Linked DNA regions of Homo sapiens: regions 2 and 3 are each linked to region 1. Evidence: fine-mapped expression QTL. A gene starts in region 1. Each other region holds a variant in brackets. All regions are shown on one strand. Distances are from middle to middle.

Evidence for each region. PIP is the estimated chance that this variant, and not a neighbour inherited with it, causes the effect.
Region 2: its variant is fine-mapped to the expression of ARHGAP45 in nucleus accumbens (GTEx, PIP 0.95).
Region 3: its variant is fine-mapped to the expression of ARHGAP45 in whole blood (TOPMed, PIP above 0.99).

What each region holds. Positions count from the first base shown.
Region 1 is chr19:1,063,995-1,069,588 of GRCh38, forward strand. It overlaps ARHGAP45 (Rho GTPase activating protein 45), which reads left to right and starts at 3,173. Exons shown (of 23, transcript NM_012292.5): 1 at 3,173-3,501; 2 at 4,420-4,750. The coding sequence starts at 3,412. ABCA7 (ATP binding cassette subfamily A member 7) reads left to right here. Exons shown (of 47, transcript NM_019112.4): 45 at 167-259; 46 at 937-1,177; 47 at 1,276-1,578. The coding sequence ends at 1,431. RefSeq lists enhancers at 1-29, 2,616-3,122, 5,313-5,472 and silencers at 1,093-1,142, 2,983-3,742, 4,053-4,292, 4,823-4,922.
Region 2 is chr19:1,086,547-1,092,140 of GRCh38, forward strand. POLR2E (RNA polymerase II, I and III subunit E) reads right to left here. Exons shown (of 8, transcript NM_002695.5): 3 at 5,246-5,361; 4 at 4,362-4,442; 5 at 3,541-3,599; 6 at 3,338-3,416; 7 at 2,926-3,005; 8 at 28-2,174. The coding sequence ends at 2,940. It overlaps ARHGAP45 (Rho GTPase activating protein 45), which reads left to right. Exons shown (of 23, transcript NM_012292.5): 23 at 1-82. Among named protein-coding and RNA genes, the nearest start is that of POLR2E, 6.0 kb to the right of the region's middle. RefSeq lists an enhancer at 2,410-2,509. The variant C/T (reference allele first, on the strand shown) is at 2,861.
Region 3 is chr19:1,044,245-1,049,838 of GRCh38, forward strand. ABCA7 (ATP binding cassette subfamily A member 7) reads left to right here. Exons shown (of 47, transcript NM_019112.4): 11 at 333-500; 12 at 758-987; 13 at 1,986-2,162; 14 at 2,558-2,780; 15 at 2,913-3,134; 16 at 3,209-3,410; 17 at 4,651-4,761; 18 at 5,022-5,193. Among named protein-coding and RNA genes, the nearest start is that of ABCA7, 6.9 kb to the left of the region's middle. RefSeq lists silencers at 982-1,131, 1,222-1,271. The variant A/G (reference allele first, on the strand shown) is at 2,918.

The DNA of each region.
Region 1 (5,594 bases):
TAAGGACACACAGAGGTGGGACGCGGCGCCGGGATCAGAACGGTCTGGGGAAGAGTGGGGAGATGTCCACACCAGAAGGGTGGCCCAGGCCGGGGGAAGCAGGCAGTGTGGCGCCAGGCACAGGTGGCCCCGGCCTCACGGAGCTCGTGGTGCCGGGTCCCGACAGCATGGAGGAGTGTGAAGCGCTCTGCTCGCGCCTGGCCATCATGGTGAATGGGCGGTTCCGCTGCCTGGGCAGCCCGCAACATCTCAAGGGCAGGTGAGCCGGCGCGGCCTCCAGGCAGGTGTGGGGTGAGGGTGGGCACGTAGGTAGGCTCAGGGGAGAGGCCAGACGTAGAGCCGGGTGAGGAAAGTTTGGCTCCAACTGGAGAGATGGCCAAGGCTTTAGATTGTCCTGCAGGGGTGACTGAGGGGGCGAGACAGGCTGGGGTGTGCTGGGGGCGCAGGACCAGGAGGCGTGAGCCGGGGGCTCTGGGTGGATTTAGAAGACACAATCAGGTGTGCGTTGGAGTAGGTGCAGCCTGGAGAGGTGAGGGTGGATTGATGGGTGGAGTTAGGGGAGGGCCTGGTTAGTGGGCGGGGCCATAGGAAAGTGGGGCGGGGGTATTTATTGTGTGGGCGGGGGTAGAGTGCAAGGGCGAAAGAGGAGTGTCCGAAAAAGGAGTCAAGTGGGGTGATAGCTTCGAGAGCAACCTGGGCAACCTAGGGAGACCCCATCTCTATAAAAAATTTAAAAATTAGCTGGACATGGTGGTGTGTGCCTGTGGTCTCAGCTACGCGGGCGGGGGGTGGCGGGGGACTGAGACGGGAGGACCACTTGATCGCTAGGGTAGTACAAGTATGGGGCGGGGCCAGAGAGTATTAGGGGCTGGAGGGTGAGCTGAGGTGGGACCTGGGAAAGGCCCGATCCGGTAGCCCTGGCCCCACTCACTGCAGATTCGCGGCGGGTCACACACTGACCCTGCGGGTGCCCGCCGCAAGGTCCCAGCCGGCAGCGGCCTTCGTGGCGGCCGAGTTCCCTGGGGCGGAGCTGCGCGAGGCACATGGAGGCCGCCTGCGCTTCCAGCTGCCGCCGGGAGGGCGCTGCGCCCTGGCGCGCGTCTTTGGAGAGCTGGCGGTGCACGGCGCAGAGCACGGCGTGGAGGACTTTTCCGTGAGCCAGACGATGCTGGAGGAGGTGATCACGGCGCCGGGGTCGGGCTGGGGGAGGCAGGCTGGGGGCCAGGCCCGTGGGCTGACCGTCCCTCTTGTCCCCTCTGGGCTGCCCACCGCTAGGTATTCTTGTACTTCTCCAAGGACCAGGGGAAGGACGAGGACACCGAAGAGCAGAAGGAGGCAGGAGTGGGAGTGGACCCCGCGCCAGGCCTGCAGCACCCCAAACGCGTCAGCCAGTTCCTCGATGACCCTAGCACTGCCGAGACTGTGCTCTGAGCCTCCCTCCCCTGCGGGGCCGCGGGGAGGCCCTGGGAATGGCAAGGGCAAGGTAGAGTGCCTAGGAGCCCTGGACTCAGGCTGGCAGAGGGGCTGGTGCCCTGGAGAAAATAAAGAGAAGGCTGGAGAGAAGCCGTGGTGGTGAAACCGTGTGCATGTGTGTCCTTGAGCCAGGCTGCACACATGTCCACACAGCTGCCTGCACATGCGTCTGGATATGGCTGGCCCCTTGCAAGCTGAGTGTGCACATACGGGCCAAGTGGCGATTCATAGGACACAGGTGTGAGCGTGCCTACAGCTGACCGGATCCCAGCTGTAAATGCCTCTGTGGCCAGCCCAGGAGTTGGGGATGTGAGTGCGGGCCTCATAAGGGCCTGGTCACACCGTCCCTGTCCCCACGTCCCTGCGTGCCTATGTGGGGCTGGCGCCTAAGGGCGGTACCTGTAAGTGCCTGGCCATAAAGTGGGGATGAGGTCAGGACTCAGGAATGTCCTGGGAAGCTTACAGGAGCCCGGTGTCCCGGAGCACAGGCCAGGGCCGGGCCAGAAGCCCATCCGACATCCAGCTGACCCTCACCCTCTGACCCCAGCCCTCAGCGCCATGAGTCGGGGGCAAAGAGTTCTCAAGGGTCTGCTGGGCTGGGTTTGCACTTGGACCTGGGCCTGGAGAGCCAGACTTGGAGCAAGGGGCTGTGGCCTTCATGTCCTGTGCCCCAGAGATCTGCCCCTCCCACCCGAGGTAGGTGGGAATGGGGTTTGGGAAAGGAAAGAGGTTGGGGTTTTGGGATTGGGGGTGGGGTTCTGGAAGGGGACAGCAGGGAGACTTGGGGAGGGGGGAGAGAGTTCACACTGCGGGGTGGGGGTTGGGGGAAGGTAGGAGGCTGGGATCTGTATGCCTGCAGATGCCCCAGCTCTTGGCCAATGCCGCCTCAGGCTGTTATCAGCAACGGGTGCCTGCGTCCTGCTGCCCAGCACGTCCGGTGGTCCAGAGTCACTGGAATGCAGCTTGGGAGGCGGGGCTGGGGACCTTAGCTAAGGGCAGGTCTGGGGCAACATGATATGGCCCACAGGGCTGCTGAGAGGTAACCAGGTGTCCTCAGCATATTCTGCCGATGGTGGGGTCCACACCACACTTTGGGGACCCCTGTGCAGGCAGCCCAGGACCAGGTGGACGTGGGGACCCAGACGGACGTGGGGACCCAGACGGACAGGGCCCGGTAACCTGGATTGTTCTGACTTCCTGGACGTCTTTGCCCCCAGGGTTTCGGTTCTGGGCCTCAGTTTCCCCACCTGTCCTCGACCTGACCCACTTCACGGGGCTGCAGGGCGGGTGATGGGGGGGACCCTACTCTGCCCGGCCCTGCTGGGGCCCGGCCACACCCTAGGGTCTGCAGGAGAGGCGGTGGAGCGGGCTTGCCTTCAGGGAAAAGGGGGCTGCAGGGGCGCAGCTTCGGCCTGTGCGTGTGTCTGGGGTCTGAGGGCGAGGCTCCAGGGGCTTGGTGGCGTCTGAGCGCGTGTGGAGGTCCGGGTCTCTGCGTGTCATCGTGCACGTGTCTGTGCACGCCCACTCGCGTCCGGGAGTGAGAGTCAGCGCCCTGCAGTCGGCCGCCCCGTGCCCGCCAGCGTCAGGCAGGGGCTCCCGGTCCCACCCCGCGAGCGGCGCGGCTCCGAGCTCCCGAAGGCGGAAGCGGGGGGCGCGGCCCGGGGCTGGGGGCGGGGCCTGCGACCTCACCTTCGCGCCCACTCCGCAGAGCCGCAGGCTGAGGCCGGGAAGGGTCGGGGGCGAGGCCGCGTCGCCGCCTCCCCGAAGCCTTTTCCTGTTGGGGGGAGGGCCCGCCAGTGACGGCCGGGCCTGTCACGTGGGCCTGACAGCTGGGGAGGGGGTGGCCGGCGACAATGTGGTCCCGAAGCGGCCAGCGCCGGGAGCTGCAGCGCTGAGACCCCCAGCCCGCCCCCTCGGGCTCCCGGCCGGGGCCCCATCATGTTCTCCAGGAAGAAACGAGAGCTCATGAAAACCCCTTCCATCTCGAAAAAGAACCGCGCGGGAAGCCCCAGCCCGCAGCCCTCGGGGGTGAGTGGAGCCCGGGTGAGACCCGGAGCTGACGCCGGGCCGCAGGGGGACAGGGACCCGCCCTGTGCTCGGGGCTCATGCTGGGGCGGCGGCTGGGGGCTCGTGCCAGCTACAGCCCCTACCGGGCGGGACGGCAGGGGCCACAGCAGAGAGGCCGGGACCCCGGCATTCAGCTCACGGTAGGGACCCTGGGAGTGGTGGCCGCCTCCCTCCACTCCATCCAGGGCTGGCCGCGGGGCCCAGGGAGCAGGAAGGGAGGGTGCCGGGTTGGGACGATGTTGTGTTTGGGCCGCTGCAGGTTGGGGGCTTAGGCAATCTGGGGGCTCTAGGGGCCGTTGAGATGGGAGGGCTGTGGCCTGGCCATTGGGCTGAAGGTTGACCGGGCAGCAGATCCTCTAATGGGATCCACCAGGTTCAGAGGTTGGGGAGTGTCCCCAGGCCTGGGGTGTCTACAAAGCTGGGGGGGGGGTCTACAGAGCTTGGGGGTCCGGGATGTCTACAAGGCCTGGGGCTGCCCATAGGCTCTGGGGTTCCATGGACCTTTAGGGGACAGACAGAGTCAGAAGTGTGTTCACTTAAAGCACCTGCGTTGTAGGAGCCTGAGGGGGGCTTGAAGGGCTGAGGACCCTCCCCACCCCCACCAGGAAGTGGGGACCCCCCTCCCGCGCCTCCCCGCAGGCCCCGCCCCGGCTGTGGTTTGGGCAAGGACCGTTGTTTGTGAAAGCTCTAGGGAAGAGGATGTTGGGTAACAGGTGGGGGGGTACACTACCAAATCTCGGCCCTGTGACCTCTGGCCTTTGACCCCTGTGGGGTCAGGGTGATGGTGGCCCTCCACAGCCCCACTTCATTTCTGGGGAAACTGAGGCCGTGTCCAGGCCGGAAAATCCCTTTAACGAGCTCCCCTCGGACCTGCCCAAGGAGCTGCCCAGGAAGGATGGGGCTGACGCGGTGTTCCCCGGACCAAGCCTGGAGCCGCCCGCTGGGTCCTCCGGCGTCAAGGCCACAGGGACCCTCAAGCGGCCCACCAGCCTGAGCCGCCACGCCAGCGCGGCTGGCTTCCCCCTGTCGGGTGCTGCCTCCTGGACACTGGGCCGGAGCCACCGGAGCCCACTGACAGCCGCCAGCCCGGGCGAGCTGCCCACCGAGGGTGCCGGCCCGGACGTCGTCGAGGACATCTCCCATCTGCTGGCGGACGTGGCCCGCTTCGCTGAGGGCCTTGAGAAACTTAAGGAGTGTGTGTTGCGTGACGGTGAGAGCCACGGGGACACCGAGGCCTGGGTGGAAGACAGAGCCAGACCCAAGGGAGGATGGAGGGAGGGACTTGGGGAGGCTCAGAAGGGAGGGAGGCTCAGATGGCAGGGAGGGCTGTGTGGAAGAGGCCATGACAGCTAAGGCTCTGAGGGATGTGTAGGAGTTTGGTGGGGGAGTCCCTGAGCGTACACTGGCTCAAGAGGGTGCCCACTTTATTTTTTTTAAAGGATCTGATGGCAATTAGGAGGGAAAGGCAGAGGAAATGTCCCATGCACAGGCTCAGAAACACGGAAACAGAGAATGCATTTGGGGGCCAAGGTGTGGGGTGCCGCTGGTGTAGGATGAAGGCATGACAACGCCAGGCAGAAGGGCAATGGGGAGCCATAGAAGGTGTTAGAGCACAGGACAGATGGGGGCAGATCTGTGTCTTGGAATGAAGCAAACTGGGGGTTGGCTGAGGTCTGGGTGGAGAGAGATTCAGGAGGCATGGCGAGGGGCAGGATGGGGTCATCAGGCGGCGGAGGTGCTGGGACCCAGCGGCCTGCAGGCCGGCAGTTCCGTTTTCTCCTCCACGCGGCCGCTGACAGCCCTGCTTCCTGCCGAGTTATTTTCATCTGCTTCCTGTTTGTCCCTGGCAGCCCAGGCGGGCACCTCATGTGCTGCCTTCAGCCCCCGGCTCCTCCCAGAAACCACAGTGCCAGGGTCATGCCAGGCGCTCTGATCTGCTCCCAGCAGCCGCCCATTTTACAGATGACGAAACTAAGTCTCTAGTGAGGCCCTGACCCCTGGCTCACCCAGCCAGGGCAGGGCAGAGCCAGGACTGGACCTCAAGTGGTGGAGTG
Region 2 (5,594 bases), 23 kb after region 1:
CACAGTGGGGTCTCTCGGAAGCCACCGTGTGGTTCTTTCACAGGCACGTTTATTTTGCTGAAATAAAAAGTTTTTAATCGGGTGTTTTCTGTGGCAGCTGCAAGCTTAGAAGATTTTCTGTGGCAGCTGCAAGCTTAGAAGAAGGGGCCAGGGAGGGGACAGAGAGAGCCCCGTGGCGTGGCCCTGGGCCTCCCCCTAGGGGAGGGATGTGTGAGGAAGGGAACCCCCCGCCACGGGGCCCCGCGAGGTGGGAGCCCGGGTGGTCTTCACCACAGGCTGTGCAGACGGTCAGGCATCGAATGACCTCGTCACGTCCACCTGCAGCCCAGGGCAGTCCAGGAAAACGTTCTCGATGACGGACGTATCCCCCGGCTCTAAGGTTTCGCACGTCAGCCCCACATGGCCACCAAGCACTGGAAACGTGGCCCATGCGCCTGTGGAACTGCATTTTTTTTTTTTTTTGAGACAGGGTGTGACCCTGTGGCCCAGGCTGGAGTACAGGAGCACAATCGTAGCTCACTGCAGCCTCGGCCTCCTGGGCTCAAATGATCCTCCCGCCTCAGCCTCCCAAAGTGTTGGGATTACAGGTGTGAGCCACTGTGCCCAGGTAATCTTAAAGTTTTTTGTAGAGGTGGGGGGTTTCTCTGTGTTGCCCGGGCTGGTCTTTTAACTCCTGAGCTCAAGCGATCCTCCACTTCCTGGGTTCAAGTGATTCTCCTGCCTTAGCTCCCAAGTAGCTGGGATTACAGGCATGCACCACCACGCCCAGGTAATTTTTGTATTTTTTGCAGTGATGGGATTTTGCCATGTTGGTCAGGCTGGTCTCGAACTCCCGACCTCAGGTGATCCGCCCACCTCGGCCTCCCAAAGTGCTGGGATTACAGGCGTGAGCCACCGCGCCCGGCCACCTCCAGAATTTTCTCATCTTCCCAAACTAAAACTGTGCACATGACACACTCTGTCCCCTCCCTCCTCCCCAGCCCTGGGAACCCCCATCCCCACCCAACTCCCCAGTCCCGGGAACCCCCATCCTACTTCCAGTCTCTGACGACTCTAGTGACCTCCTAGGAGTGACATCAGTGTTTGTCCCTTTGGGTCTGGCTTGCTTTGGCCAAGACAATTTTGAAAAAAGTACATTTGGAGAGAAGGGGAAGCACTGTCCCCATCACACACACAGTCCGCGGCCTGGGGATCTGGGGACCCTGCTGCACAGAACAGTGGGCGCGTTACAGACCACCGACCGCCCGAGGGTGAATTACATCTTAATAAAGCTACTGTGAGAGAACCACGTGGCTAGGTTAAACTTGGGCAGGCGAGGCCTTCTGAAATCAGACAGTAAGCAAACGGGGAAGTAGAGCCAGATCCCAAACGTCTGTAAGAGGAACTGGCCGCAAACCACAGCTGCACAAGCCAGAGAACAACTCCACACCCTCACGGGAAGGGAAGAGACAGACACGCTCACGCCTTACCCAGGAGCACGAAGTGGGAGGGCAGGGCGAGGGCCTGGGGAGACACTGACCCCTGAAGCCAGCGCGAGGAGGGCACACCTGCCAGGCTGACCTCGTGTGCTTGGGGTGAGGCAAGGCCACCTGCTGGAAACCTTGTTAGTCGGCCTGGTTTCTGTATCAAGCAAATTTATTTGCTCAAAACATCTTTACCATTTGAAAACACCCAACCTCCTACAACAACCGAGAACTCCAGAGCTGGCATCTCGCACCCTGGTGGCTTGAGCGCGTGCATGGCTGTGAATGGAGTAAAGAGCCGAGGCCGGGCGGGGGCCGCCACGCATCAGGGCCCCCGAGGGAGGGAAGACGAGGGGTGGAAGGCCGAGGGCCCAGGAGGAAGCAGTGGCTGGTGGGAGACCCGGACCCCAAACCCCCAACAGAGGGGACCCAGCGTGGTCTGGGTGAAGACCCGGCACCAGCTGCCCCCAGGTGACCTCCCTCTGGGGGCCTTGTTCCTTCTGAGGCTGCATCTCGCACAAATCCACAGGTGAATGGGGCGGGCTGGGCCACAGGAAGCCTCACCCCAGGACGGGAGAACGTGGGTGGAGGCCACCTGCCTTGGGGAGTCCAGAGGAGCAGCAGCCGTGAGAGCTGTGGGGGCCGGATTCTGGCAGGGCAGGGGCGTTTGTCCTGCAGGGATGGGGGTCGCTGTGTGTCCGCCTCTAGGGGCTAGGAAAGGGGGAGAGTGGTCACACGACAGGGGCAGATCCAGTATGCCCAGGACAGCACAACGCCCACCGAACGTGACGGGGTGCGGGAGGCCTGGCAGGAGGCGGCCCAGGCCGCAGTGCAGAGGCCGGACGGCTCCCTTGTGCCCAGCGGTCACACAGGCGTGGGCAGTAGCTCTGACCTCAAAGGAACCGTGCCAGCGTCAGACCAGGCCAAGCCCCACCCCTGGGCTGAGTGTGAAGTGGGGCGGCCTGCAGGACAGCAGCTCGCCATGACCAGAGTCCAGGGGAAGCTGGGAGGCTCTCGCCATGGGCAGAGGCTGTCCCGCTCCTGAGACTCCGGCCAGTCCCTCCCAAGGTGCCCACTCAGGGAAGGGTTGGCCTGAAGCTGTGCCTCCTCTCTCAGCTCTGGGGTCTCTGGGCAGGTTTCTAAACCCTCTTCTGGAAAGTCCCGCCGCACAACTGCCCTGCAGGTGAACGTCTCCTGCTTCTAAGGTGGGTCAGCGGCGGAGAGACGCACGCCCCGCGTACCAGGACTCTCCCGTCCAGGCGCACAGCCCCAAGAGCTGCAGCCTACGGTCGGGTGGGGTCTGGGGGTCTGGGGGTGTCCTGGGAGCGCCTGGTGGCCCAGCTGGGCTGGTGCTAGGAGGGTCTTGCTGCCGGACAAAGCAAGAACAGCCCTGCACA[C/T]CGACGGAGGGGACGACACCCCTGCCTCTGACCCCACCTCAGTGCCTGTCCCTCGGCCGTCTCACCTGTCAGGCGGTAGCTACTGCACCAGCCGGTAGGTGATGTACCTGCCAGCCGTCTCACTGGGCCGGATGATCTTCACCACCTGCAGAGACAGAGAGCAGGGGCTGCGAATGCTTGAGGGGTCTCACTGCAGTCACCAGACAGCAGGCGGGCAGCACACGGGCTGGGGATGGCCGGCAGGGGTCCGAGATGGCTGACCCTGGGCTGTGGGACCCGCTCCCTGGGAACCTGGGTCACGCTCTTCTCTGGGCCCAGTGGCCCTGGCTTTAAGAGGGGGATATTGGGGGTGTGGTCTCGAGGTCCCCTCCAGGCCCTGGATCAAGGGGGAGGGGCTGTCGGGGAGGGACAGAAGCCCCCTTCTCCGAGTGGTCAGCTCAGAGCAGCCCCAGGGCCCCTTCTCCCCACAGGGCTCACCTGCCCACGCTTTATCCCAAAGTAGCGCGCCACAGGGTCCCCCGCCTGGATCCTGGGCAGCTGGTTCTCTCGGAGCTTACTGCGAAGCACCGTCAGGAAAATGCCAGACAGGGCCGTTGGGGGGGCAGGGGTGTGTGTGGGGGGGGAACGCGGAAGTCTCGAGGGACAGGGAGGGGCGGGGCCGGTGGGGCTGGAAAGGATACTATCGGGCCAGCAGCTCTGTCACCTCCTCCTTGGTCATGACGACGTGCTCAGGGACTAGCTGCCGAGAGAGGAAGCCACCAGGCATCACCAAGGGCTGGTGAGACCCCACGTGGCTCCCAGGTGCCACCACAGCCCCTGCGCCTTCAGACGGACAAGAGCCCTGAACCCCACCCCGATCCCCGGCACTCAGGGAGCCCACCCACCCCACCCTGGCTCCACAGGCGGGGGACGGAGTCACAGCTCCTGGGGCTTCTGAGGCAGACGGGCTGGGCACAGCCACCTCCTGCTGGGACTCCTCCTGTCCCAGCACTAGGGTCCCTCCACACTCCCAGCAGTCCCGATTCTACAGGCTGGGGTGGGCCCGGGATCTGCATTTTTTTTTTTTTTTTTTTTTTTGAGATGGAGTCTTGCTCTGTCTCCCAGGCTGGAGTGCAGTGGCACAATCTCGGCTCCCCGAGTAGCTGGGACTACAGGCGCTCGCCACCACGCCTGGCTAATTTTTTTGTATTTTTAGTAGAGACGGGGTTTCACCGTGTTAGCCAGGATGGTCTGGAACTCCTGACCTCGTGATCCGCCCGCCTCGGCCTCCCAAAGTGCTGGGATTACATGTGTGAGCCACCGCGCCCGGCCGGGATCTGCATTTCTAGGAAGCTCCCGGGTTCGGCTGCTGCAGGCCCAGGGCCACCCTTTGAGAACCCTGTCCTCCATGCACTAATAGGAACACCTGCCCTGGGCCCCAGATCCCACATCTTCCTGGCCACCCACAAACGCTGCATCTCTGCCGGCCCCACGCAGGCGGGATTCCGCGGCGCGCGCCCACCTCGTGCTCCGTGATGTTGATGAGCAGCTCCTGCTGCAGAAACTGCTCCAGGATGTACTTGGGGGCCATGTCGACCAGGGACTGGAAGAGAGCGGCTCTAAGGCACGGCCCGGAGGGGCCCAGACAACCCCAACCCCATTTCCTGCCTCAAGCTACCTGGGGCTTACTCGTGTGCCCCAACAACACACCCACGTCGTGAATCAGAAAACCCCACCGCCAGCCCAGGAGCCTTCAACAGCCCGCCCCTCCCCAGCCTCTCTGCTCATCGAGAGCCTCATCCAGCAGTGAAGTGGCCGTGGAAACTCGGATGTGTTTCCATCCATCACACGCTTCCAGGGGCGGCCCTCAGAGCTGGCAGGGCGACCTCTTCCCCATACAGGGGTGCTGCTCTGTGTGGCTGCGTGAACCCCACAGCTGGTGGGCCAGGGACTAAACTGCTCTGCTGACTGCCCGTCACAGCACAGCAGCCTGGCTCCAGAGTGTCCGACAGACAGACGGGGAACACGGATAGGCCCCTGGAGGACCCCGTGCCGGGCCTCCTCTGCAAGTCCCCCTGGACATCAGCTCAGGATAAAGAACCTCCGGCTCCTGGAATCTGCACCAGGCCGAGGGCTGGAGCCCACAGGAGCTGGCGAGAGGCACAGTGCCCTCCGCCCTGACGCCCCTCCTGAGAGCTGGGGGAGGACGGCGGCTGCCTGGGGTGGGGCCCATGGACGCGGTGGGAGGGAGGCGGTCGGGGCTTGCCGGACATCCCGGCCACATCCTCCAGGGCACCCTGGCTGGCCTGGCCCAAAGCCCAAGGCACGTGGGCCGCCTGTGGGTACTGCTTGCGGGAGGAGGCTGGGGAGGGGGAGAGGCTGGCGGGGTGGGGCAGGGGTGCCCACCTGCTTGGCGGAGGGTGTCATGCCCTGCTGCACCACGATGAGAGCCCGTGTGATGTTCTCCTCCTGCATGCGCTGGCAGTACACCTTGATGGTCTTGATGCCCACCTTGGGCTCCTCTGCAGACAGAGAGTGTGCTGGCCTGCACGAGCCTGGGCCCTCGTGGCCCTCGCCCACCCAGAGCCCAGAGCACCCAGGTTCCAGCCCCATTCCACACAGGTGTCTCTCCTGCTCGGGCCTCGGCTTCCGCGTTTGCAAAACGAGGCCTGAGTTGCAGGATCCCAGGACAGGGGAAGAGAGGGCTGAAACCTCTCATTCACCCGGAGACAGGGACAGGGGGCTGACACCCCTC
Region 3 (5,594 bases), 20 kb before region 1:
TTTTTTTTTTTTTTTTTTTAAGAGATGGAGTCTCACTCTGTTGCCCAGGCTGGACTGCAGTGGCGAGATCTTGGCTCACTGCAACCTCCGCCTCCTGGATTCAAGCAATTCTCCTGCTTCAGCCTCACAAGTAACTGGGATTACAGGCATGCGCCACCACTCCCGGCTACTTTTTGTATTTTTAGTAGAGATGGGCTTTCACCATGTTGGCCAGGCTGGTCTCGAACTCCTGACCTCAGGTGATCCACCCGCCTCGCCTCCCAAAGTGCTGGGATTACAGGCATGAGCCACTGTGCCCGACCCAGACTCTCACTTTCACCTGCGCCCCCCAGCGGCTCCTGCAGATGCAGGATGAAGGAAGAAGGCAGCCCAGACCTGGAGGCCGGGACCACATGGAGGCCCTGCGATCCTTTCTGGACCCTGGGAGCGGTGGCTACAGCTGGCAGGACGCACACGCTGATGTGGGGCACCTGGTGGGCACGCTGGGCCGAGTGACGGAGGTGAGGGCCTGTCCACCTGCGGGGTCTGTTTCAGTGGGGAGGGCAGGTCCCATCCTAGTGTTCCCACCCTGGTGTTCCCAGGGGGAGGCGGGCCCGGCCCTAGTAAGAGCCTGGGATTTGTAGAGATCTCAGGAGGGAGCCGGCCGTGGGCCTACGAGGGGAAAACATGGCCCAGCCCCGAGGTCCAGGGGGAGGAGCGGAGTGGTCTAGGAGGCAGGCGGACCCCAGCGCCTAGGACTCACCCCCGCATCCCACAGTGCCTGTCCTTGGACAAGCTGGAGGCGGCACCCTCAGAGGCAGCCCTGGTGTCGCGGGCCCTGCAACTGCTCGCGGAACATCGATTCTGGGCCGGCGTCGTCTTCTTGGGACCTGAGGACTCTTCAGACCCCACAGAGCACCCAACCCCAGACCTGGGCCCCGGCCACGTGCGCATCAAAATCCGCATGGACATTGACGTGGTCACGAGGACCAATAAGATCAGGGACAGGTCAGGCGAGGGAGGGGGCGGGGGGATGAGGGACTGGGCGGGGCCAAGAGCGTGGTGGGTGGGGCCAGGCAGCATTCAGCCTATTGGAGACCATGATAGACAGGATCTGGGCTGTATCAACAGTGGTATGGTAGCCAGAGCCCGGGGCTCCTTAGACCAATAGGGGCCCGTGATGGGCGGGGCCTAGGTGCATGAGGGGCGTGGCCATGGGCCTGAGATAAGATGAGAGCAGGTATAGGTTGAGGGCAATGGTGGGCGGAGCCAGGTGTATTATTAGGTCCCTGGAATAAGGGTGGAGCTAAAATTGCACCGGGTGCTGAGCGCAGTAGATCTTGCCTGTTATCTCAGAACTTTGGGAGGCCAAAGTGGGAGAATCTCTTGAGGACAGGTATTCGAGACTAGCCTGGGCAACATAGTGAGACCGCCTCCCCCCCGCCCCCCTCCCCCACCAACCTCACGAAAATATCTTTAAAAATTAGCCAGGTGAGGCCGGGCACAGTGGCTCACGCCTGTAATCCCAGCACTTTGGGAGGCTGAGGCGGGCGGATCACGAGGTCAGGAGATCAAGACCATCCTGACTAACTCGGTGAAACCCTGCCTCTACTAAAAAAAAAAAGTACAAAAAATTAGCCGGGCGTGGTAGCACGCGCCTGTAGGCCCAGCTACCCAGGAGGCTGAGGCAGGAGAATCGCTTGAACCCAGGAGGCGGAGGTTGCAGTGAGCCGAGATGGCGCCACTGCACTCCAGCCTGGGCGATAGAGCGAGACTCCGTCTCAAACAAATGAATAAATGAATAAAATTAGCCAGGCGACTTGGGAGGCCGAGCTGGGGGGATCGTTTGATCCCGGGAGGTCAAGGCTGCAGTGAGCTATGATTGCAGCTCTTCACTCCAGCCTGGGCGACAGAGCAAGACCCTGTCTAAGAAAAAGGTTATTCAGGGTGGGGCCCCGGGAGTTTCTAGCCCTTCCCTACAACCGGCCACCATGCCCCTCTCGCAGGTTTTGGGACCCTGGCCCAGCCGCGGACCCCCTGACCGACCTGCGCTACGTGTGGGGCGGCTTCGTGTACCTGCAAGACCTGGTGGAGCGTGCAGCCGTCCGCGTGCTCAGCGGCGCCAACCCCCGGGCCGGCCTCTACCTGCAGCAGATGCCCTATCCGTGCTATGTGGACGACGTGTGAGCTCTGGCACCCCTCCCCGCTCTTCCCCGCGGCGGGAAGGTCCCGGGTGTGGGGGTGGGCCCAGGCTCTGTTGGGAACCTTCCTGCGGTCCAGGCTGCGAACTTTGCACCTTTACACCACTCCACGTGACCTGCTGCAGCGGGAGGAGCAGGGGACTCTGAGGGTCTGGTGGGGGGGGGGACTCTGAGGGTCTGGGGGCCCCCGGCGCAGGGACAGCCTGGGCTGCACTGATGCCTGAGAGCCAAAGGCTGGCTGGATCAGGTTCCAAGGAACAGGGAGGCAAATCTTCCCGCCTTGAGATCCCGGGACACGAACCAGTCGTGCCAGATGGTGGGCGGAGGGGGGGTCTGCGGAGGGTCTCCAGCCTCCACCCCAGCCGTCCCCACCCCAGGTTCCTGCGTGTGCTGAGCCGGTCGCTGCCGCTCTTCCTGACGCTGGCCTGGATCTACTCCGTGACACTGACAGTGAAGGCCGTGGTGCGGGAGAAGGAGACGCGGCTGCGGGACACCATGCGCGCCATGGGGCTCAGCCGCGCGGTGCTCTGGCTAGGCTGGTTCCTCAGCTGCCTCGGGCCCTTCCTGCTCAGCGCCGCACTGCTGGTTCTGGTGCTCAAGGTGGGCGCGCCTCGGCCTGCCCGGCTGCAGAATGGGTGCGCTGGAGGGTGACAGACAGGGGCGGCCCCACGTGGGTGCGCGCCCCCAGGCCAATCCAGGAGCTGCACCCTAAGCTCCCGTTGCCTCTCACAGCTGGG[A/G]GACATCCTCCCCTACAGCCACCCGGGCGTGGTCTTCCTGTTCTTGGCAGCCTTCGCGGTGGCCACGGTGACCCAGAGCTTCCTGCTCAGCGCCTTCTTCTCCCGCGCCAACCTGGCTGCGGCCTGCGGCGGCCTGGCCTACTTCTCCCTCTACCTGCCCTACGTGCTGTGTGTGGCTTGGCGGGACCGGCTGCCCGCGGGTGGCCGCGTGGCCGCGGTGAGAGCCGGGTCGGGCGTGGATGGGGGACGCCCCCCGCTTCGGCCGCTCACTGACCGCCCGCTTTTCCGCAGAGCCTGCTGTCGCCCGTGGCCTTCGGCTTCGGCTGCGAGAGCCTGGCTCTGCTGGAGGAGCAGGGCGAGGGCGCGCAGTGGCACAACGTGGGCACCCGGCCTACGGCAGACGTCTTCAGCCTGGCCCAGGTCTCTGGCCTTCTGCTGCTGGACGCGGCGCTCTACGGCCTCGCCACCTGGTACCTGGAAGCTGTGTGCCCAGGTGGGCCGTAGGGGGCGGGGCTCCGGGCCGGGTCGCACCTGCTTTGCGGGAGGCTGAGCTAGGGGTGTGGCCTCCAGGCCGTTTGGGGGTGGGGGGTGGCTTATTCCCTTGGAGAGAAGGCGGGGCTTCTTGGCACACGCATGCAGGTGGCTGCATTGGAGGGGCGGGGCCTGAGGCAGGTGGGCGGGGTTTCTGGGCCGCCTCATACCTGGACGCCCTGATTCCAGGTGTATGGCCAGAAGCTGGCACAGTCGCCGGGCGCTGTGGCTCACGCTTGTAATCCCAGCACTTTGGGAGGCCAAGGCAGGAGAATCGCTTGAGCCCAGGAGTTTGAGACCAGGCTGGGCAATATAGTGAGACCTCATCAATACAAAAAGTTAGCTGGGCGTGGTGGCACGCTGGGCGTGGTGGCACGCTCCTGTAGTCCCAGCTACTCGGGAGGATGGGGTGGGAGGATCACTCGAGCCCAGGAGGTTGAGGCTGCTGTGAGCCGTGATCCCACCAGCCTGGGCAACAGAGTGAGACCTCCATCTCTTTAAAAAAAAAAAAAAAAAAAAAGCTGGCTGGGTGCGGTGGCTCACGCCTGTAATCCCAGCACTTTGGGAGGCCGAGGCGGGCGGGTCATCTGAGGTCGGGATTTCGAGACCAGCCTGACCAACATGGAGAAACCCCGTCTCTACTAAAAATACAAAATTAGCTGGGTGTGGTGGCGGGTGCCTGTTTCCTAGCTACTTGGAAGGCAGAGGCAGGAGAAATGCTTGAATCCCGGAGGCGGAGGTTGCGGTGAGTCGAGATCGCGCCACTGCACTCCAGCCTGGGCAACAAGAGTGAAACTCAGTCTCAAAAAAAAAAAAACAAAAAAAAAAAAAACAAGGCCGGGCACGGTGGCTCACGCCTGCTTTCCCAGCACTTTGGGAGGCCGAGGTGGGCAGATCACGAGGTCAGGAGATGGAGACCATCCTGGCTAACACGGTGAAACCCCGTCTCTCCCAAAAATACAAAAAATTATCCAGGCATGGTGGCGGGCGCCTGTAGTCCCAGCTACTCAGGAGGCTGAGGCAGGAGAATGACGTGAACTGGGGAGGCGGAGCTTGCAGCGAGTCAAAATCGTGCCACTGCACTCCAGCCTGGGCAACAGAGCAAGACTCCGTCTCAAAAAAAAAAAAAAACAAAACCCCAAAAAAAGCCTGGTACACTCCTGGGGGGTGGGCTAAGCAATAACCCGCGCCCCTCCCCGCAGGCCAGTACGGGATCCCTGAACCATGGAATTTTCCTTTTCGGAGGAGCTACTGGTGCGGACCTCGGCCCCCCAAGAGTCCAGCCCCTTGCCCCACCCCGCTGGACCCAAAGGGTGAGGCACTACGAGGCTTAATAGCTGGTTGTCCACATATGCCCAGTTCCCCCCCAAAACGAGATTCCACAGATGCCAATGACAATGACCTGGACACCCCAACCCTCACACCTGCCCTGAAGACACTGCGGTCCCCAAGCTCCCGCAGCTTTTATAGGCCCCGGCCCAGCAGGTCCCGGATTCCACAGCCCAGCTCTGAGGGACTTGCAGGCCCCAGGACCCCCATGACCTCCATGGCTGAGTCCACCCCATCTCTGCAGTGCTGGTAGAAGAGGCACCGCCCGGCCTGAGTCCTGGCGTCTCCGTTCGCAGCCTGGAGAAGCGCTTTCCTGGAAGCCCGCAGCCAGCCCTGCGGGGGCTCAGCCTGGACTTCTACCAGGGCCACATCACCGCCTTCCTGGGCCACAACGGGGCCGGCAAGACCACCACCCTGTGAGCCCCCAACCACTCCCTCCCCGTGAGCCCCCCCACTCCCACCCCGTGAGCCCCCCCACCACTCCCTCCCCGTGAGCCCCCCACCACTCCCTCCCCGTGAACCCCCCACCACTCCCTCCCCGTGAGCCCCCCCACCACTCCCTCCCCGTGAGCCCCCCACCACTCCCTCCCCGTGAACCCCCCACCACTCCCTCCCCGTGAGCCCCCCCACCACTCCCTCCCCGTGAACCCCCCACCACTCCCTCCCCGTGAGCCCCCCCACCACTCCCTCCCCGTGAGGCCCCCCACCACTCCCTCCCCGTGAACCCCCCACCACTCCCTCCCCGTGAGCCCCCCCACCACTCCCTCCCCGTGAACCCCCCACCACTCCCTCCCCGTGAGCCCCCCCACCACTCCCT